Linked DNA regions of Homo sapiens: all the other regions are linked to region 4. Evidence: fine-mapped QTL for protein levels in blood plasma. A gene starts in region 4. Each other region holds a variant in brackets. All regions are shown on one strand. Distances are from middle to middle.

Region 1 (5,144 bases), 150 kb before region 4:
GTACTGGGCACACAGTAGGGGCTCAACAAATATTGCTTTCACTTACCATTGTATGCCTAGAGCCTAGCTCAGTACCTGCACATAGTAGTAGGGGATCAACACATATTACTTTTACTTACCATTGTTACCTTCATTTACCATTGTACGCCTAGAGCCTAACCAAATATTTGGCACATTGTAGGTGCTCAATCAGTATCTGTTGAACTCATGAATGAATCAAATGGAAGCCTTATCCTGGAGTCTGAGTGCTGCAGTGGTGCTCTTATCAGCTGTGGGAACTTAGAACTCCTCTTTGCAACTCACTGGACCCCACTCACCCAACAGGATCACATGACACAGATATACCCTGTTATATAAAACTCATTGTGAAGGCATTCATGGTTGTCACTTATAAGGCATCATCTGAAGTCTGCTGTCACCCTGAACCCCCTGATGTCCTTGGCAGGCCATCTCTGTAGTTGTCTTGTCCCTTATTTCTTGTGCTGTTGTGTATGGACAGTCAATGGGCTCTGTTATCTTGTCATTTACCACTGCATTTGGAACCATTCCTCCATGGGTTTTGGGTTTTACTTATCTCACTATCTTAGATCCACTTTGTTCATTTTTTAAAAGGCAGCAGCTTCCAGAAGGACTAGGGAATAGTCTGAACAGTGACAGAGCTGCCTGTTACCCTCTGACAAGATGGTGTGGTGGGAAAGGGCTCCAGCCCTGGCCTGGGGAGCAGTGGGCTCCATGACCTTGGGCACAGTGACCTTGAACACTTCAGCTCTCTGAGCCTCATCTCTGGAGCCCTTTCAGATCTTTAGTTCTATGTCAATACACAGGAATGGGCTTTCTAGAAGTGGAATGATTTTTAAGTTGGTGTCTGCTTTTCAGGGAAATTGTAGCTGTTTTAATTTAAAAACTTTTCATTTATGCTTCTGTTCTAAGTGTAAAAACAGCACTAGCTACAAGGAATTCATATTTTGTGATTTATTAGGAGTATTACCATGATATCAGAAAATGGCAGGGGCTTTTTTTTTGTTGAATATGTTTTTAAAAGGGTTGCTGCATTCTTAAGTGTAATTTTATTATATCCTGGGATGACTTTTTTTCCCCATGAAGAATAGATCTATGTTTTATAACAAGCCTTCACTACTGAGGCTGGTCGTGAGCATATTCTGTGGCGTTACATCATTTCCAAAGAGTGTTCTGGCTACAGGAGCATTCTATTTTCCAAGGAGATTGCAGAGACCAAGTAGCAAGGTTCTTTCTAGAAATCAGAGTAACCTGAGATGAGCCAGGCCTATGTCCAGCCAGACATTGAGGAGTCTTAGAAAGGAAAGGCCCTTAGGGATATACCAGCCCAACTCTCTTGTCATCTACATTAGGGAAACTGAGGCACAGCATGGAGAAGTGACTTCCTGCAGGTAAAAGGCCTAGAGTACACACTCCATTTCTGCCCCTCACTCATCACACATCCTTCACTTGGCCCAAACCCTGGTCCCCCAAATGTGAACATTGTTGTACGCAACCAAACCACTGCTGGTGCCTGAGGGTGACACCTGCTTTGTGTTATGATCTGCTTTCAAAGCATCTCATGGTGGAAGGGCTGCTCCTAATTCAGCATTCCAATCAGTTCTACTTGCCCCAGACCCTTTTTATCATCAGTTTGGCACTAATATCTAGTAGAGAGTTTATTGGCATAATTTCTTCAGAAAAGAGGCTGGAAGGCTTAGCAAGTTCAAATGATAACATTTTTATCAAGAGTCCCAAAGGACCACCCTTTTCCCTCCCATCACCACCACCAACACCAATAAGGCTTTCTCTAGCACAGGAAGTCAGGGGCAAAAAGCAGAAACAGCACAGGCCAAACCAGCAGGCACATGGTACATTATCGGATCAACCGGCAAGCAACCACCTGGGAGCCATCTTTGTTAAGGGCAAAATAATGAGCTCACGAGACACTGGAGGATACAAGACTATCTTGATTCTTCTGAAGGAGTGAGGGAGACTGGATGGGGTATTGGAGACTTTCCTTTCTGTTTTCTCAGAAAACATGCAAAGAAAGTCTTCACAAACAACTAAGGTTGTGTCAGTATCGCCCAACCTTCCCTTTTCAAAGATGGCCACCCCTGTTGTCCATTCAGAGGGAGCACACAGCAGAACCTACTGGGCGTGGAGAGAGAGACAAGCAGCAGGAGAGAGATTTAGTTTTCCACAAAGGCTGTTAGTTTTGTTTTGTTTTTTCCTTTATTGATGGGATTTAAAGTGCATATAACTGAAGGCAAAGTCCAAGGCCTAGAGAAAGATATGAGGCCCGAGAGAGAGGCTCAGAGATTCTAGAGGCGGCTGAAGAATACCCACCTAAAAAGGCCACTTGAGCTGCAAAAACGATGCGGCGGGGAGACAGAAAATGGGAAAAAGAGAAAGGGGGTGGGGACGGGGTGGGGGTGGAGGAAGGAGTTTGGGAAGAAGAAATTACCAGTTTAGAAATTCAGCCAAAGATGAGTAGTAGGAGTTAGTTTATATCCCAGCTATGAAAATACGGGCTGACCTCAAGGTAGGAACAGTTGTTTTAGGAAAAGTAAGAAGAATGATAGCCTCAGGCCAGGACACAGCATCCCCTGGCCCTTCAGGTGATGGTAGAAGTGATGGGGCTTCTCCAAGCCTCTGTCATGGTCTTCCCTGGAGACCCAATATGGGTCAAAGGAGACTCTATCCAGCCAGGAGAAGGAAGGGGCTGGGGACCTTGATCTGGGGCCTACCCAGAGCTCCCCAGTGGAAAGCAACATCCTTTTGCTACTGGCCTATGGCTGGGGCCCCACTCACCCACGCAGGCTGTGCCATCCTCGTTGGGCTCGTAGCCCCGACTGCACTTCTTGTTGGTCCGGCACCTGTAGCTTCCATAGGTGTTGACACATACGGGCTTGTCTCGAGGGCACA[C/T]GAATGGGAACTGGATGCATTCATTGGTGTCTGCAAGGCGAGGGGAACCACTCACCATGAAGGTGTGGGGCAGCAAGTACCAGCCCAGGCTCTGCCTGCCTATACACTGTCTGGCTTTGGGAATGTGCCTTCCTCGCAGAGCCTCAGTTTCCCTGCTTCAGTTCCCTTGGCTGGCTCCTCCTGTACTTGGTCTCTACATGCTGGGGGCAGGGGGTGGGCACTCAGGCTTGGTCCTGGGTCCTCTCTTCTGTCTACTACAATCGTTCTAGGTGATCTCTTCATGCATGGATGATTCCGAAAGTTCTATCTCCAGTCACAACCTCTCCCCGTGGCTCCAGACTCACGAATACAATAACCCATGACCTACTTGACAGCTCCACTTGGATGTCTAAGATGCACCTCATGCTTAATATGTCCAAAATAGAACTCCAGATTCTGCCCTGCCCTGCCCATATTCTGGCCCTCTGTTCTGTCTTCTCTAGCTCAATCAACACCCCCATCATCAATCAGCTGCTCAAGGGGAAATCAGAGCGACCCCTGATTTCTCCGTCTTTCTTGCCCCCTGTGCAATTTCACAGCAGAGCCTGTCCACTCTGCCCCGCAGTCCACCAGTCCACCTCTCTCTGTCACCTCTTTCTCATTCCTCTGCCACCACCCAATTTCCTGCCATCGTGACCTCTTGCCTGGATTTCTGCAGCTGCCTCCTCACAGAATACCTGGCTTCCCCTCTTCCCTCCAATCCACTCTGCAATTCAGCAGCTGGAGGGAGCCTTTAAAAATGTGAATCACATCATGTCACTCCCCAGTTTAGCTTCTAAGGCTCCTAAGAGCAAAATTCAGACTCCCTACAGGGGCCTCATGGACTCTCCATCATCTCCAGGCCATACTGGCATCCCTCCTGCTCCTTCAACACACAAAGCCTTTGTCCTGTCTCCCGCTTTTCACTCCTGCCCTTCCCTCAACTCTTTCTGGGCCTAGATCCTTCTCATCCTTCAGGTCTCAGCTCAGAGTCTTCCCCCCGAGGCCCTCCCTGACCACTCTCTCTGGAACAGTCTCCAGGGAGCACCTTGCTCAGAGGGTTCTGAAATCATCTTGTCCAGGTGTGTGGTCATGCGTTCAGGGTCTGTCTCCCTCCACTAGAATGGATGCCCCTCTTGTGGAGGCGCGGGGGTGGCACTTGGCCTACATCCCCAGCTCCCAGCATGACACTTGCTGTGTACGAGGCACATAACTGCCTGTTGGGCGATGAAAAGGAAGAGGAGGCTGATCTCAAAGGGTCCTTCCTGCAGGCAGAGAAGACTCTGGAATTTCTATGCACCTGCACTATGTGTTTGGAGTGGGGCTGGGTGGGCATGTGGAGAGTGTAGGGGAGTCATTTCCTCCTCCAGCCACCCTTGGCACCACTGCTCCTCCACCTCCCCACCTGTGCTCCTTTGTTCAGACAGTGCCCCCCACCAGAACCATGTCTCCCCTCTCTGTGACTGCCGAACTGCTCCTCATTCCTCAGGGCCCAGCTTGGACCTCACTTTCTCTAGGGCACCTTCTAGGACCCTCCCTAGGCTGGTTTAGGGCCCCTGCTTTGTCATCTCCAAGCCCCTGCCCTCCCCCATCTGGGCCCTGATCACACTGTGTGGTCGACAGCTGTTTACTTTTGTGGCTCTCCATTGGTTTTCAGCTCCTGAGAGTGGTATCTGTCTTGTTTACTCCTGTATCTCAGTAGCAAAGGGTTAATGAGCAGCTGCAGAGTAGACTTGGGAAGAATGCTGGATGAGGGTTCAAGGAAGGAGGGATCCTTGGCCTGACCCCTCCTTGCTGGTCACTGGGATGGAAAGTGTTGGGGGTGAAGGTCTCCTGGACACTGAACTTCTAGGCTGCCCCTTCCCATTCCAGGCTCTTGGGGACTTTCAGAAGGTTCTTGGACCGTCAAGGAGCTGCCATCCTGGTAGTGCTGCAGCTACCTGCCTGCCCCAGTACTGCACCAGGCTGCAGTCTCCGTTCCACACTGTGACCACACTCCATACACTATTTTGCCCCAATGCCCTTGGCAATGCACACCCTTGCCTGCCAGCCCCCTTGCTTGCTGCTCCACATGGACTTGCTGGCCATGGCATGTGGCTATTCCCCCTGTGCCAGGTTGGTGGTGTGTCTCCTTCCCATCTGCAGTTTCTCGGTACTCATGGCAGGAAAACACTGCCAGTTTCCAGAACCGCAGTGATTCA
Region 2 (5,144 bases), 170 kb before region 4:
CCTCTGAGCTAGAAGGAAATGCCCCTTCCTGGAGAGATGCCCCTGAGGTCTCACTGAAGCAGTCTCATGCAGTCCCATCCAAACATGGAGAGCCCCTATGAATCTAGTCCTGAGCTCTCTCACAACCAGCAAGATGGGACGTGTCAAAGTCACTAGAATACTCGTTTGATCTTCTGCAGAAAACATCTAGGATATCATGGGAATTTCCTGTTTCCAAGGGAGGACAAGCAGCCATTCTTATTCCCATTTTATAGATGAGGAAACTGAAGCCTAGATGGTTAAGCTGCTAGTTCAATGTCACTCAGCCAGTTAGTTGATGGCCAAGTCTGGACTGGCCCCCCCAGTCTCCTGACTCCCAGGCCAGTGCTCTTTCGGCTCTGCCTGCAGCCTCTTTGGTCTTGCCTGTGTGCCAATGTCATCTTCCCCATCTACATGGCCCCACCATTGTCACTTCCAGCCCTACCTGTGACTGTGCACACTCCAGGGAGGCTAACCGCAGCCTGGCTCTGTCCCTTTCTCCAGATCGAGCGGCAGCTCTTTGAAGAGACTGTGAAGACCCTCAACGGATTTTACGCAGAGGCTGAGAAGATTGGGGGCAGCTCCTACCTCGAGGGCTGCCTGGCCTGCGCCACGGCCTACTTCATCTTCCTCTGCATGGAGACCCACTATGAGAAGGTGGCCCCTCCCGCCCCACCGTGCATCCCTTCCCTCAGGGCTGCCCTGTGGCATGCTCATCCTTGTCTGGCTCCTCTTTTTGCAGGTTCTCAAGAAGATTTCCCGCTACATCCAGGAGCAGAATGAGAAGATCTTTGCACCTCGAGGCCTCCTACTTACAGACCCTGTGGAGCGTGGGATGAGGGTTGTATCCTTCTGGGCTATTCTGTGTTGAGGGCACAGGACTGCTAACCAGTAGAGATCCTGGTGAGGCTGCCAGGAAACGAGGCCACCTTAGGGGCCTCCACTCAGGTTTTCCCAGGATTCCCCACATCAGTGGTCCTCAGCCCTCCTCCACCACCCTAAGTTATTGGAGGCTTTGTGAGTTTCAGGATTTGCACTTGTTGGGCTGCATGTAATCAGTGCTTAGAATATGCCAGCTATCATGTGAAGTGCTTTGAAAATACGAATTCATGTACTTCTCATAACAATCTTACCAGGTGGGTTGCTCTGATTATTCCCAGCAACCTGCTTAGAGTCGTGCAGCTGGTGAATGTGGGAGCCAGGAATTGCACCCAGGCTCACCCTTAACTACAAAGACCCCTCCAGGAATATGCAAATCACCACATTCATTTACAGGTCCACAGTCTCATGCAATCCTCATGGAATCTCCCGTGGCAGGTCGCATTGTCCTCCTTTCACAGATGAGAGACATGAGGTCTAGAATGATGTGACTACCCCAAGGTCTCAGTCCTGGTGAGAGGCTGGACGGGGGTGGGGCGTGGTTCTGCTGACTTTATCTCCACTTGGAATAGTGTGATCTGGGTGTGCACAAATCCCTCCCCCCGGGCAGCAGCAACACGAGTAGAATTGCTAAAAAATAAGGTTTACTGGAAAACTGAGGAGAAACAGAGTCAAAAAACCACAAACACCCAGAATCACGTGTTGACAAAGCCCAGTGAGAGGCACTTGTTTTTATTGAGCCTTTACTATGTGCCAGGTTTTGTGCCAAGTGTCTTACATACATTTAATCTAATCTCCACACTAACCCCAAGATTCTATTCTTAATCCCCATTTTGCAGATGCGATAATGGATGGCTAACAAGTTAAGTGACTGGTGTAAGGTCACATAGCTTTGTGAGTTCCTGAATCAGGATTTGAACTCAGGACACTAAAGTCCTCATACTTCCTGTGCAGTGACACCACCTCCCTGGGCACATCTGTGTCCTAAGATATGGTCATTAGACCCACTGGAATGTAAGCGCCATCAGGGCAGCGACCCTGTCTGCTGTGATCACAGCTATGTGCCCAGCACAGGGCCTGGCCTTACGAGTCTCCCTAATTGTTAGCTAAGTAATGTGCATGGATGGGCTTGGGGAGGGTCTAGCTCCCAGGCCTTTACATCCCTACTGTCTAGGCAGCAGCACAAGCCCACTTTCCCACTCCCCTGCTGGACTCCATCCGCTGGTTCATGTCCCACCCCTGCTCAGCAGCTGGGCT[C/T]GCAGCTCTCCTTAACCACCGACCCCAGATTGAGATCTCCATCTACGAGGACCGGTGCAGCAGTGGCAGCTCCAGCAGCGGCAGCAGCAGCGGCAGTGGCAGCAGCAGCGGTGGGGGTGGTGGGGCGGGGGCCCGGTGACTGGCCGAGAGTCCCTGTAGGGAGGTGTATGGCCGGAGTGAGGGCCTTGCAGACCTGCGGCGGCTGCGCTACCAGAGCACCCGCTTCTGAGTCATTCTTTGGGCTCACCCTGCTGCCCGGGGTGGGAGGGAGGGTGACGGGCCTCATATTTCCTGTGGGCCATCAACCTATGCCCCCTGTCCCTCACCCCCGTCTGGATCAGTCCATTTCCTGACCTGGGGGCTTTTCCTTCCCGATGGGGCTGGTCTGGGCCACACAGAGACAGATCTTCCTAGGAAGGCTGGGGTGGGGAGAACACAACCTAGGCGGCCCCTCTCTTCCACAGCCCCTCTCCCAACCCTGCGAGGGGGGCCGAGGCCTGCCACATAGAGGACTCCCACACTGCATGACCCCTCATCCCAAACCCATATCCACCAGGACTCTTTCCCTTGGGCCCTGCGTCCCGTGGCTGTCTCCCAGTATCTGTTCCTTCTCATGCCCCTGCAGGGCCCCGGCCTGTCTATGATCCTGCCTCCACCAAATTCAAGGTGTGGGGAGACGGGTGCCGTGGTTGGGAGCTGTTCAGCGCACTCCTGACCTCTTCTAGACCTATGGCTTTCCTGTCCTGCATTCAGAGCTAGAGGCCAGCTCGGCCTTGCGAGAAGCATCCAACTTTGAGACTTTGCAGGCTGCCAGGTGCTGGTTGGGGGGCACAGAGCCTGGGGCTCTGGGAGGTAATATGGGGGTCTGGGAAACTCCGTGAAGAGACATAGCCATGCGGGGCCTGAATCTCCTGAACTACAGCCAGTTTCCTGAGATTAGAACCTGTGTGTATGCACATGTGAATGTATGTGTGAGTGCACATGTGTGTAAGTGCAGTGTGCGTAAATGTGTGAGTCTGCGTGTGTTAGCATGCCTGTATGTGAGCGCGTGTGTGAGCGCATGTGTGTGCACCAGTGCACAAGTGTATGAATGTGGACACATTTATAAGCACACCTGTGTGTGTCTGAGTACATGTGCACACACGTGTGCACAAATGTGCATTTATATGAGTGTGAGTGCATGCATGTGCATGAACATGTGTGCACAAGCATGTGTGTATGAGTGTTCATGTGTATGAGTGTGTGTGTATGCAGGTGAGTGCATGTGTGTGTGAGTGTGTTTGTGTGTTCCCCTTGGCTGCCAGGCCAACGACTGCTTCTCTGCATCCTGCTGTCTTCGCTACCTGAGGGTCTGTGACTTCTTCCCTGTGTGGGTCCAGCCTGACCCCCTGTAAGTAAATGTCCAAAAGCCCCTTGCCCCTCCCCTAGGGCTACCAGGGAACATACTCTACTGCATATGTTCTAGTGGAAGAGAAGCCGGGGTTCTAGGAAAGAAGAGCCAAACTTTGGTGGCCTTTGGTGCCCCCTCTCAGCTCCCCATGACAAGACAACGGGGCTGCAGACACTGTGTGTTCAGCCTGCCCAGGGGCTGGGGCTCTTTAAGGCTTTGTAGGTGAGGTTTCCATGGACCTTCAAAGGTGCCAGCAGCCTGCAGGGGAAAGGCAAACTCCCTCCTTGCAAGGAAAGGAGATGTCCAGCCAATGATGCCCGGCTTCTGAGGCCCAGAGGAGCAGGTGGGATGGGAGCAGCCCCTGGGGCTGGTGTCCCGAAGATGAAATGAAGGGGGCTGCCTATCTCAGTTGGCGGGAGGTGTTAGAAGTGGATGTGCAAGACCAGCCACTGGAGGTAGCTCTCTGGAGTCAAAGAGAGGCCTGCTTTTCTACCAGACATGGGAGCAGCATGTAGGATACAAGGGCCTACCCAGAGACCAGAGAGAGTCAGCCTAGTCCTTGCAGCCTCAGGAAGTCCTCGGCCCAAGTGAGTCCTGGTCCAAGGATCCCCCTGGAGAGCCGCAGTTCAGTGGGCTCCACCGCAGCCCCTGGCCACGGCCTATGCCCTCCCTGGGCCCCTGTGGGGCTGGGCATTGTGTCTGACCTGTGCATCTCCCATGGGAGGGCTGGGCACAGGCAGTGCTATGGCCTTTTTTTTTTTTTTCTTTTTCCAATAAAAGAACTTGCCCAGCGTGAAGCTCTGTGATGCTTTCTCTGCCCCGTGACGATGGAGGGTCAGTTCTATGCTCCAGGACCACATGAGGGGATACTCAGCTGCCTGAACTGGACCTGACATGGGGAGCAGGATGAACTCTGTCTTCTTGGAGCTTGCAGTCTACTGAAGAGGCAGACACCTCAGCATCTCTAATCTGGAATCTTTGGGGCACTTGTAGCCTTGGGTGGGGGAACAGGTTGGACTGAAAGCGAGGCCAAAAGTAATCAATTAATGATATCAATAAATCCTCATTTCTTGAGCTCTTCCCCTGGGTTGGGTCCTGTTGGGAGCTGGATCACACAGGTCACTCAGTACTGAAGATGAGAAAGTAGCTGGATGATCACTTCTCGGCCTTTTGGCCAAGATCAAATATGGAGAAAGTAGCTGGATGTTGGAACCTAGCAGAGTTGTGTCTTGAATTTTATAATTTATTGAGCACCTACTATGTGCCAGATACTTTGCTGAAACCATATGTTAGAGCTGGCAGGGGATTTAAAGATCACTTGAATCCTGTCACAGAGGTCCAGAGAGGGTGGGTGACTTGCCCTAGGCCACACAGCTGGTTGATGATAACAGGGCCCAAGCTTGGAACCCAGGTCTCCTGACTCAGTGCCCACTCTGTTACCACAGGGATGGCACCCAGATGGGAAGCTGCCTGAGGCTGCAGGGAGGCTGGGATCACAAACTCAGGCCTGTTCCCAGAGAGGGGCTCATCAGACTGTGGGGACAACGGCTCCAGCCTCTTAGGTGGGGGCTGGGCAGTCCCCTCTGGGTGGTTCTCATGT
Region 3 (5,144 bases), 110 kb before region 4:
GCAGCTTTGGGGCCAATGCAGTGGTTCCCACACTTTAACCTATATCAGAATCACCTGGGGGGCTTGTTAAAACACAGATTTTTTTTTTAAACATCTGGCCCCATCCCCTGAGTTTCTGACCAACAGGTCTGGCGTGAGCCATGAGAATCTGCATTTCTAACGAGTTCCCAGATGATGCTGACACTGCTGGTCTGGGAACCACACTTTTGAGAACCACTGGTCCAGGGCCATTAGCCCGGGTCCTAGTCTAGGGCCTGCCCCTAACTGCTCCTCGTCCTCGGGCAAATCCCTGGCTGCCTCCAGGCTGCATCTCCTCAGATGTTAAATGGAGATCATACTCCCCCTGCTTCCTTGCAGGGTTCTTGAGAAGATGAAATGAGACAATGTATGTGAAAAGTCTTTGAAAAGATAAAAATGCTATATAAACAATGAGGCATAATCATTATTGATCAGAGGACGTTCTTGTAAGAGATCAGCTTTGAGCTGGATCCAGAAAGGTGGGTGAGTGATGAGGCAACTGGTGAGAAAGGACAAGTGGATGTTCCGGGTTTGGAGCAGAGAATGAGTGAGGGGTGGAAGGGGAGAGAGAGAGAACAGCACATGGCAGAGTGGGGGCGGGGCTGAGGCATTTATGGAGCAAAAGGTCTCATACTTCAGCATGCATTGGAGTCACCTGCAGGGCTAACTGAACCTCAGATTGCTGGCCCCACCCCTGGAGTTTCTGATTCAGTCTGTCTGGAGGGTGGAGTGGGGCGGGGCCTGAGAATGTGCATTTCTAGCAATGCTGCTGCTGCTGGCCCAGAGGCTACACTGAGATCCACTGACCAGGTAGCTAGATTAAAAGGCCCTGCCCCAGGTAGGGGCTATGGGGCTATGGAAGGATGACTAGGGTGAGTGCTATAATAAAGTTAGAAACTTGTGTCTGCTATCATTTCACCCAGGGGCAGGGAGGCGGAAGGTAAAAAGGCATCTTCATTTTCAGGCAGGCAAGGTTCAATTCCTGGCTTTGCCTGTTGCCTCATGTGTGATCAAGGTCAAGTTGCCTAATTTCTCAAAACCTGAGTTTCCATATCTGTCAAATCGGATAGTGACAGCATCTACCTCATTGGTGTCTTATGAGGATTCAGTAGGACGAGGCAGCTAAAGCATGCAGCATAAGGCTCGGCATGTCCCTAGTGTAAGAGGTGTTGGCTGTTACTGTTGTCCTTGCTCTCGTGTTTTCCTGCACCATGCTGCATTCCTCTCTGTCAACTTCCAGGCTGCCCTTGGCCTCTCTCCATTCCTCCCCTGGCAGTCCTCAGGCCCCAGGGATGGCCAAGGTGGTGGCTGGACTCAGAAAGCAACCCTCCTCTGCTGGCAGACTGACCATAGGGCTTCTTTCTAGTTCTCTGAGGCCTGGGAGACTGAAGTCAGGGGCTAAGCAGGGTGTGAGCAAGCTTCTGGACGCCTGCCTCCTGTGCTGCAGTGCCAGGTCATCTTTTTTTTTTTTTTTCATTTCACATAGTGCCTTTGTCCTGTGGTTAAATGCGTGGGTGTGCAGATGACCTTGTTAGGACAGAGTGCATCTCTTTGTGATTAACCTGCATGCCTCTCCCCCCAGTTCTCTGAGAAGTTGCCCACGTTAGCTGAGTGTCAAAAGCCTTGGTCCTGAACGGGTGAGATGGGAAACCGGGAGGAGGCTGGGAAGAGGCCCCTAACCGTGACCAGGTCTGGCACCCCCCAGCTCCACCCCACACTCTGGGGCTGTTCACAGAGCTGCCTTCCCATCTACTCCCACCAGGCAGGAGTCCAGGTGGCACAGATTCAGGTCAGGCTAAATGTGGCTTCACAGCCCAGCTTGGCTTCTCTTCCCAGCGCCAGCTTGTTAAGAAATAAATATTTATACCTGGCACCTGCCTTCTCCCAAGGCCTGGAGGCCCCTGCTGTAAAGATTCACACTGAATCCCCAATCCCCTCGGTGCCATCTCAATCCCAAAGTGAGCCAAACCTCTTGCCCCTGCCCCCAGAATGGGGGCCATAGACACTCCTGTGGCAGCCGGGCAGCAGCTGGGCCCCTGATTTAGTGATGACTGTTTACAAAGCCAAGGAGGTGGGTGGCAGGGGAGCAGGTGACAGGAGGGATAAATCACCTTTGCAGCAAGCTGCTGGCTCTGGCGAGGCCTGCTGGGACCTAAGCCTGGGTGGGCGGCTGCCCCCTCACCGGGCAGATGGCTGCAGTGGCTCATGCCCCTTCCCACTCCGTCTTTCCTCCCCATCCAGTTTGGGTGGGGCACCTCTGTGTAGGGTGCACTTGCAGAGCATGAAAACGTTGGAGGAGCTATTGATGAACTAAAGTACTCGTATATTGAGGCAACCCTCCCTTCACCCATCTAGGAACCCCTCCATTGTGCCTTCATTTATTCCGTAAATATTTATGAAGGGCCCCACGGCTCAGTGCCTGGCACACAGGAGGCACTTAATAAATGTTAGTTGAGTGAATGAATACAGGCAGGATTTAGAGCTAGAAGAGGTGGGTTCATGTCCTAGCCACACCACTCATCTGCTTTGGGCTCCCATGCAAGTCACTGCTCCAAGCTAGGCTTCCATCCCCACAAGTGTCCCGAGGACACAATGATCCCTTGGCTGGCTTCCTCACTGGTTTCTGGGAGGGCTGCATGGGAGACAGGATGTGAAAGGTACATAGGAATGCATTCTGCAAGTCTTAGTTGTTGGTATTTAGCACCCAATCTATCCAAGACACCGCGGGAGACGCCACTCTGTCAGGGGACGTCTACACAGTGGCTCCTCTCCTGGCTCTCATGTGGCTTCTCCCCAGGACCCCATGTGCCCCTGCACTCACCTTTCTGTCCACACAGGCCACAGAGCGTCCGGCAAAGAGGCTGGCCACACCACGGGCCACGTTGACCTCATCGCTCAGGATGTCTTCCCACCGGTTATTGC[G/A]GAACTTGAACAACTTGTCGGTGTACGTGGCCACCCCTGGAGAGAGGAGGAAAGGGAGGGCTGGTGGACAGTGGATCAGGGTCTTGGTTCTGATCTCTGGGTATGTCTCATGGCACCTTTCACAAGGTGGTTGGGACCAGAGGAGGTTGGGTCATCTGCGGCAAGGAAGACCTCAAGCAGGTGAGACTCCTCTGTGTTTGGGGAGCACTCACATGTTTCCAGTTGAGGGAAGAGACTCTGAGCCTCATGAAGATGGCTGGCCCAGGCCTCAGGAACTAGGGAGGAAGTGCCACTGCTGCAGTGTGCCCAAGATGACCCTCAGCAGCTGGATTTCATGCCCTGCCCCGTGCTCCTGCAACAGCATCAAGGAGCTCCTGGGACTGCAATACGGCAACATCCAAACTCAACCCAGGATGGCTCTTTCTCCAGGCGCTGTCCCTACATTCTCTACTGGATCGCAGGACCTACCTGATTTGGGTCTCAGAAGAAATGGTTCTGGTTCATGGGTAGGTCTCAGTCCACCCTGAGGAAGGGGCTGGAAGTTGAGCTCTGATGGGGTGAGAAATGAGGGGTTGTTCTGCCTGGGGTGTGATGAGTTTGGGCAGCCCTGGGAGGCCCCTGGTCCCAGGACTGGGGAGCCCCAGAAGGCAGTGGTTTTCACCTCTTTTGGATTACTGGCCCCTTTGAGAATTGGAGGGAGGTGAAGGACCTTCAGCTCAGGGAGTTGCAGGTCTGCACACCACACAACATGCCATACATCATTTCAGGTCTGTGGCCTTCTGGAGCTCGTTCGTGACTAAGAAGCCTTGTTCTGGAGAAGAGGGAATAACTGCTGGTTGCTGAGGTCTCAAGCCCATTCAAGTGACCACTTGAAAGGCAGAGGTCTCTCCTCCGCCATCATCCTTAGTTAATTTCTTGTTAATGCAAGACCCCGAATGTTCGTAGTTTAGGGGGGTCCTCGTTCTACCCCCTGGGCTGGACAGGAAACACAGGGAGAGGAGCAGCTGAAGGAATTGGGGAAGGTGAGGTTGAGGAAGAGTGGACTTGGGGACAGAACCCTGAACTTGACTGTCTGGGCCAGGGAAGAGGCAGCAGGCTTAGACTGAGGAGAGACAGCATGGCACAGGGGCCCAGGGGCCAAGAGCTCAGGGTGATGGAAATGATCTGGAGCCCCAGTGTTGGTTCTGCTTGGATTCTACTTCTAGGCTCCAGACTCGAGGCATGCTGCCCAGCATCTCTGAGCCTCGGTTTTCCTACTTGTGAGTGGGGATGACAGTAGTTACAGTCAAGTTTACTGTGAGGAATAAATGAGATGATGCACATTAAAGGTTTGGGATGGTCCCCCCACCAAAGTGGTAGCTATTTTTCGACAGGAATGATTTTTCTCATGTTATAGATGAACTACTTTCCAAGGTTCTTTAGAGACATCAGCCCTGCACTGCAGGGGTTTGGTGAAAACCAGTGATTCTGTGAGTGGGTGTGTGTGAGGGTGGGAAGTATGTGAGTGTGAGCATGAGCGAGAGTGAGCATTGTGAGAGTGAATGTGTGTGTGGATGTGTGAATGAGTGAGAGTATGCAGGAGTAAGAGCCAGCATGAGTGAGAGTAAGAGTGTGTGAGTGGGCTGGGCACAGTGGCTCATGCCAGTAATCCCAGTACTGTGGGAGGCCAAGGCGGGCAGATCACTTGAGCCCAGGAGTTCTAGACCAGCCAGGCAACATAGCAAGACCCCATCTTTACAAACCCTCCCCCTCAAAAATTAGCCAGGTGTGGTGGCACATGCCTGTAGTCCCAGCTACTCAGGAGGCTGAAGCAGGAGGCTCACCTGAGCCCAGGAGGTAGAGGCTGCAGTGAGCTGTGATTGTGCCACTGCACTCCAGCCTGGGTGACAGAACAATACCCTGTCTCAAAAAAAGAAAAGGGTATGAGTATGTGAAAGCAAGTGCGTGAGAAAAAGTGTAAGCATGAGAATGAGTGGTAGGTGTGAGAGTGAGACAATGGCTGAGAATGAGTGTGTGTCAGCATGAGAGTGGGTGTGTGAGTGAGGGTGTGTGGTGAGTACACGAGAGTAAGAGTGTGTCAGAGAATGAGAGTGGACAAGAACGAGTGAGTGTGAGAGAGTGGGCATGAGTGAGTGAGAATGTGGGCATCAGTGAGAGTGAGTGTGGGAAGGAGTCAGAGTGAGTGTTGAGAGGGGATGAGTGAG
Region 4 (5,144 bases):
CACCAGGGTTCAGAACACCAGGTGCAGCCCAGATGGAGAAGGGAAGAAAGAGCAACAAGCAGGTATTTCGCTGCACAAATCCCCAGTGGAGAGAAGGTCTTGGGAAATGCAGCAGAAAAATGTTGACTGCAGCAGACAACGATGGAGCTGGGGGTTGGGATATAGATTGATAGCACCCATAAAATATCTCCAGGCTGAAGCAGGTACCCTAGGAGTTTGAACATCCACCTACATTCAGGGATGGGATAAGGTGGAGGATTCAGGCTCAAATGAGCAGCCACAGAGCAGGTTCCCCAGACTCCCTACACACCGTTTCGACCTTTTCCAGAGTCCATTAGTACCCACCGGAAATGGAAATGTTCTAATTGTGGTCCTCTGTGCCATCATCAAGACCCTCAACTCCCTTCATTACCTCTTAAATTGACTTTAGGACCTACTGCCAGAAGGATGTTCTTAACCAAGTCAGAGAGAGAGAGAGAACATTTTCTCAAGAACCATGCTGGAACAGCCACCATGTTCCCACTTTTCCAGCCTCCACCTCTCCCCCATGGCTGAGGGTGAGGTACTCTGTGACTCTCAATGAGCTCTAATTCAGTCTTGGACATCTCCAGCCCCAAGTCGTCTGGGTTCCAAATCTCCGTCAATCGCTTATCTCTTCCCACATGAGTTCTCCCCTGACTCAAGAAAACACTATAGAACTGTCCCCTGTCCTGGGACCCTCTTCCCTTCTTTTCCACTTGGCTTCACGTGGAAAGTCCTGCACCCATCCCAGAAGACACCTCAAGTGCAACTCAAGAATGTGTCCTGTCAGGAGAACGGAAGCATCTCCTGGGATGTGCAGAAGCCACACTGGGTGCACCCACCAGCAGCAGCAGCGGCGGCGGCGGCGGCGGCGGCGGCGGCGGCGGCGGCAGCAGCAGCAATATTCATTAGTCATTCCTGGAGGAAGCCCCCCCAGCTCTCAACCCTAGGAGAATTTCCCCGCCACTCTGGGAGGCTTCCATCCAGGCTGGGATGACTTTGGATTCTTGAGTTGCTTTCTGCAGAAGCGGGACTAACCAGGGCTCCCAACTACTGTACTGCAAAGAAGCGCGCTGCATTGCTGGGCATGCCCCCAAGCCCGGCCTGGCTGCCCCATCAAAGCCTCCAAGTGCCCCCACGGGGTCGAGGAGGACTCAGGGTTCCCCTGGAATGCCTGAAGCCGGCTTGCCTCAGGCAGCCTGAAGGGAAGACCACACCTCGTCCAGCATAAGGCGGCTAGCAGCTACGCCGCGCGCGGGGCTGGCTCCCGGAGCTCTCTGCCACCCAGCGCTGTGCCCGGGAACTCGGCTTCCCAGGGGAGGAAGAGCCAGCCCGCGGGGCTCTTCCCCAGCCTGGAAGCGTAGGCACTCGGCCGAGGCCAGTGGCTTCCCAGGCCCGGGTCTCAGCCTGGCTGACTGGGAGACTCTCCCGATAGCCCGGCACATCCCTCCTCACCCGCTCCGCCCCCTCCAGGCCCCAGAGGCCCCCTCCCCTGACAGCTGACCTCCAGTGCGCCCCCAACACTTTCTCTGCCAGCTGCTGGCTGTCGCCCCCACACATCAGCTCCCACCTCTCCGCCACCTCCAACCCGGCCGCCGCCTCACCCCCAGCCCGCGGGGGAGGCTCCGCGCGCCAATCGAGTCCAGCGCCTCCCAGCAAGTTAGGAGCGAAGCCGCCGCCTTCGCGATCCCAGTCTTCCCGGGTTCCCGGGCGGCGTCCCCGCCACCCTTGCGGGCGGATCCGGGGGGGCGCGCAGAGCTGGAGAAACTTTCTCCGCCTTAGGGTGGGGGGCACCGGTGCAGATACTCACGCCGGGGTCAGCGCTCGGAGCCATCCTCCCGCTCTCGGCCCCGCCGCCTAGGGGCGTGGGAAGCGGGCGCTCGCTGCCGCCTCTGCCGCCGGCGCCGCCGCCTGCTTGCTCCCAGCCCCGGTCCCGGGCTGGCCTCGAGCCTCCCGCCCCGACGCCGCGCGCTCGCTTTATACAACTCCACTCGAGCGCGCCCGGTCTTATGTAAAGGCTGGCGGAGGCCCGCAGCCAATGGCGCGGCAGCTGGAGCCGGGGGCCCGGGGTGGGGGGCGCCGGCGCGGCCAATCGCGGCCCCGAGAGCCCGGAGAGCCGGGCGTGGGGAGGGAGCGCCTCCCCGCGCTGATTTAGGAGCCGGGATTGCGGTGGCAGCAGCCGGCAGCCAGGCTGGCCCGGCGCGGCGCGGCGGCCACTGGGGTGGGCGGCGGCGAAGGCGGCGGCGAGGGCGGGCGCCCCCCGCGCCCCGCCACTGCGTCGCGTAACCTTCAGGCGGCAGCGAGGCCTGGCGAGGAGGGGAGAGGGCGCCTGGCTGGGCGCTGGGGGCCCCAGGCCGGAGGGAAGCGAGGGTCCCTCGGGAGGCAGCGCAGGGAAGGAACGCGAAGGGGGAGGGGAGGGCGGCGAGCCCCAGGACCCCGCGGCCACCCCTGCGCGCAGGACCGAGGGTGGAGGCGGGAGCGGCTGCACTGCCTTCCCATTTCCCCCCAGGATAGCGATCTGGCGTCGCCGGGCCGGGCCAAAGCGGCCGAGCGAGCCGCGCTGATGGCGAGATTTCGACTACGGAGCTAGAGCCGAGCCGATCTTTATCCAGCCTGGGGACGTGTCCGAGCACCTCCCGGGGACTGCTCAGTATGGAGAGCAGGGCTCCGCGACGGCCCCCGCAGGCGGGGAGCGGGCGAGCGCAGCTCGGAGATCAGGCGCGCAGAGGCCCAGGCGGCTGCGGGCAGCGCCGCTTCTACCCCACCCCGTCCCCACCAGCAGTGCCCCCACCCCATCCCACCTAGTCCCTACCCCAGCAGTGGCCGAGTCGGGCCTGGCCCACCCGCTCCTGCCGCCTGCGTCCTACTAGCCTCCCTCACCGCTTTGATCACAGGTACTGCCCGCCTCTCCTCGCCCCCAACCCGCTGCCTTGGTGGTGGTGGGGGGATGGTTTCTGCCTCTCTGGACCAGGGGAATGGGGGTGCTAAGCGCCAGAAAAACACACTTGATCAGCAATGCTCAAAATACCCCTGTTCAGGCAGGAAACTGGCCTTGGTGGGTCACACTCTGAAGGCAAATCCTTTATTTTACGCCTAGAATAGAGCCTGGCACATAGTAGGCGCTCAGTGTTTATTGAATGAATTCTGAGCTTCCATGAGTGAGGTCTTTGGGTTTCTGAAAGCCAGGTAAAGGGGCCACAGAAGAGAAAGACTTGGGAATCCACCATCGGAGAGGGAAGGAGCTAGGACTGTTTTCCCATCCGTTGACGCTTTTGTGACCATCACCCACTAGTCTGGCTTCTGGGCCCTTGACTCTTAGAATGATTTGAATGTGTTCTTTTATAGAGGGCCACACATCCAGCCTCTGGCCCCTGTTATCCACAGATTTTGAGCAGAACTACCAGGACCTAGTCTGGGCTCTGTTTTCAGGTCTCTGTGATCTTCCTCTGAAAAGAAATAGCTAGGCACAGACAAACTTTCTGGCTTTTTGAGCCCCCATCAAGCCTGTAAGGTTGTGGGCCCCTTTGAAAATCTGGCAAAAATTACTGAATCATTTTTCTAGAAAAATATACAAACACACACATTTACACACACACACACACACACACACACACACACACACACACACACCTTGAGTATACTTTCAGGATCATTAGGAACCCTGAGTCTCTTGGGGCTCGGTCCAATGTCAACCTGTTTCTTCAGGGGTCTAGGACAGTAGTTTATAATCACCCTCCTTTTGGGGATCACAGACCCTTTAGAACCTTTCAAGAATCTCATAAATGTTATGGATCTGTTGCTTATAAAAATGCTCACTCACATACACACATGTTGACATGCAACTTTAGGAGGGTTCGTGGATCATTAAAACTTAATCTAGGGCCCTGATTAAGAACCTTCATCTATCGGCAAATAGACTCTGCCCCCAAGGCCATATCTGATCCCCAGCTCTCTGCATAAGGAGTCCAGTTGGCTCTGCACCCTGCTGGAACATGCCACCACCTTGTTCTGAGGGCATCTGAGTCATCTGGCCAAGGCTCTGGCACCTGAGAGACTGTCTCCACACTTTCTCTGCATCTTGGTCCCCGCCACCCTCTTAATGTGGAAATAAGTTGCAGGTTGTCATATTATGTCTGATCTATGAGCATTCCTTAGCCAGAAACTCCAACTCAGGGAGACAGCAAGTGACTGGTAATTAACCAGTTTCACTCAATCCCAAACATCTGAGCACACCTTTCTTGGTTTTTGTTCTCACCTCTCTCTTCTCCGGTGAAGCTGTGCACAGCAGCCCCAGCTGTAGCGCCTCACCTCACCCAGACCCGACAGATTTAGTAACCAGCACGGTAATTATCAGCATTAGCCAACCAGATGTGAATAGGTGCTCTGTGCAAAATAACTCTGTAATAATCTCACACTTTCCTGCAGCTAGCCAGGTAAGGTTACAACAGACCAAAGGTGCTAGGGAAGGACAGAAAAATGCAGGAAATGATGGAGATGTTCCAGCCAGGAAGTGCTCCAGGGAATACAATCTGGCTTCAGCACTTGAACTTGTGAGGGTTTAGCCCAGTGGGCCAGGCAGTCCTGGTTGGAAAATTTCTCATTTCTCTGATGTCCTCGATGTCCATTTGCTCAGTTCATGTCAGTGTCTGCTCAGAGCTCCAGCCCTTCCCCACCCCCAATCCCGTGAGAGACCTCTTGTCCTCCCACATTGCCCAAACACAGCTTTCTTGAGGCACATGCACACGGTTATAGACTGAATTGTGCCTCTCCGGACCAAATTCACATAGTGAAGCCCTAACCCTTAGTGTGACTGCATTTGGAGATAAGGCCTTTAAAGGGGCAATTAAGGCAAAATGAGATCATAAGGGTGGACCCTAATTCAATAGGACTAGTGTCCTCGTAAGAAGAGAGAGAGATACCAGAGATCTCCCATTTCTCTCTGTGCATCCTCAGGAGAAAGCCTGCCTGAGTAACAGGAGGAGGCCATCTGCAAGCCAGGAGCAGGGCCTCTGCAGAAACCAGACCTGCCAGCACCTTGATCTGGGACTTCCAGGCTCCAGAACTGTGAGAACATTAACTTCTGTGGTTAAGCTCCACGTCTGTGGTATTGGCTATGGCAGTCT

Alleles and levels. Positions count from the first base shown, and alleles are read on the strand shown. Strength reflects both the effect of a copy and how common the allele is.
For the plasma level of the protein whose gene starts at base 2,004 in region 4, allele T in region 1 goes with a lower level than allele C (moderate association).
As copies of C replace T in region 2, the plasma level of the protein whose gene starts at base 2,004 in region 4 goes up (strong association).
For the plasma level of the protein whose gene starts at base 2,004 in region 4, A is the low allele of the variant in region 3 and G is the other (moderate association).

Evidence for each region. PIP is the posterior inclusion probability: the model's chance that the variant is causal. The UK Biobank Pharma Proteomics Project read protein levels with antibody pairs (Olink). The fine-mapping took linkage between variants from a reference panel, not from the people measured, so its PIPs are less certain.
Region 1: its variant is fine-mapped to the plasma level of the CRTAC1 protein (UK Biobank, PIP above 0.99). The variant lies in the coding sequence of CRTAC1. If it changes the protein, the assay may bind it differently, which can mimic a change of level.
Region 2: its variant is fine-mapped to the plasma level of the CRTAC1 protein (UK Biobank, PIP above 0.99). The variant lies in the coding sequence of CRTAC1. If it changes the protein, the assay may bind it differently, which can mimic a change of level.
Region 3: its variant is fine-mapped to the plasma level of the CRTAC1 protein (UK Biobank, PIP above 0.99). The variant lies in the coding sequence of CRTAC1. If it changes the protein, the assay may bind it differently, which can mimic a change of level.

Annotation. Positions count from the first base shown.
Region 1 is chr10:97,877,438-97,882,581 of GRCh38, forward strand. CRTAC1 (cartilage acidic protein 1) reads right to left here. Exons shown (of 15, transcript NM_018058.7): 14 at 2,812-2,955. Among named protein-coding and RNA genes, the nearest start is that of MIR3085, 4.1 kb to the left of the region's middle. RefSeq lists an enhancer at 4,567-5,144 and a silencer at 5,055-5,144. The variant C/T (reference allele first, on the strand shown) is at 2,926.
Region 2 is chr10:97,863,408-97,868,551 of GRCh38, forward strand. GOLGA7B (golgin A7 family member B) reads left to right here. Exons shown (of 5, transcript NM_001010917.3): 3 at 523-675; 4 at 761-862; 5 at 2,183-5,144. The coding sequence ends at 2,293. It overlaps CRTAC1 (cartilage acidic protein 1), which reads right to left. Exons shown (of 15, transcript NM_018058.7): 15 at 1,593-2,307. The coding sequence ends at 2,141. Among named protein-coding and RNA genes, the nearest start is that of MIR3085, 9.9 kb to the right of the region's middle. The variant C/T (reference allele first, on the strand shown) is at 2,155.
Region 3 is chr10:97,920,425-97,925,568 of GRCh38, forward strand. CRTAC1 (cartilage acidic protein 1) reads right to left here. Exons shown (of 15, transcript NM_018058.7): 4 at 2,840-2,976. Among named protein-coding and RNA genes, the nearest start is that of MIR3085, 47 kb to the left of the region's middle. The variant G/A (reference allele first, on the strand shown) is at 2,941.
Region 4 is chr10:98,028,618-98,033,761 of GRCh38, forward strand. It overlaps CRTAC1 (cartilage acidic protein 1), which reads right to left and starts at 2,004. Exons shown (of 15, transcript NM_018058.7): 1 at 1,832-2,004. The coding sequence starts at 1,855.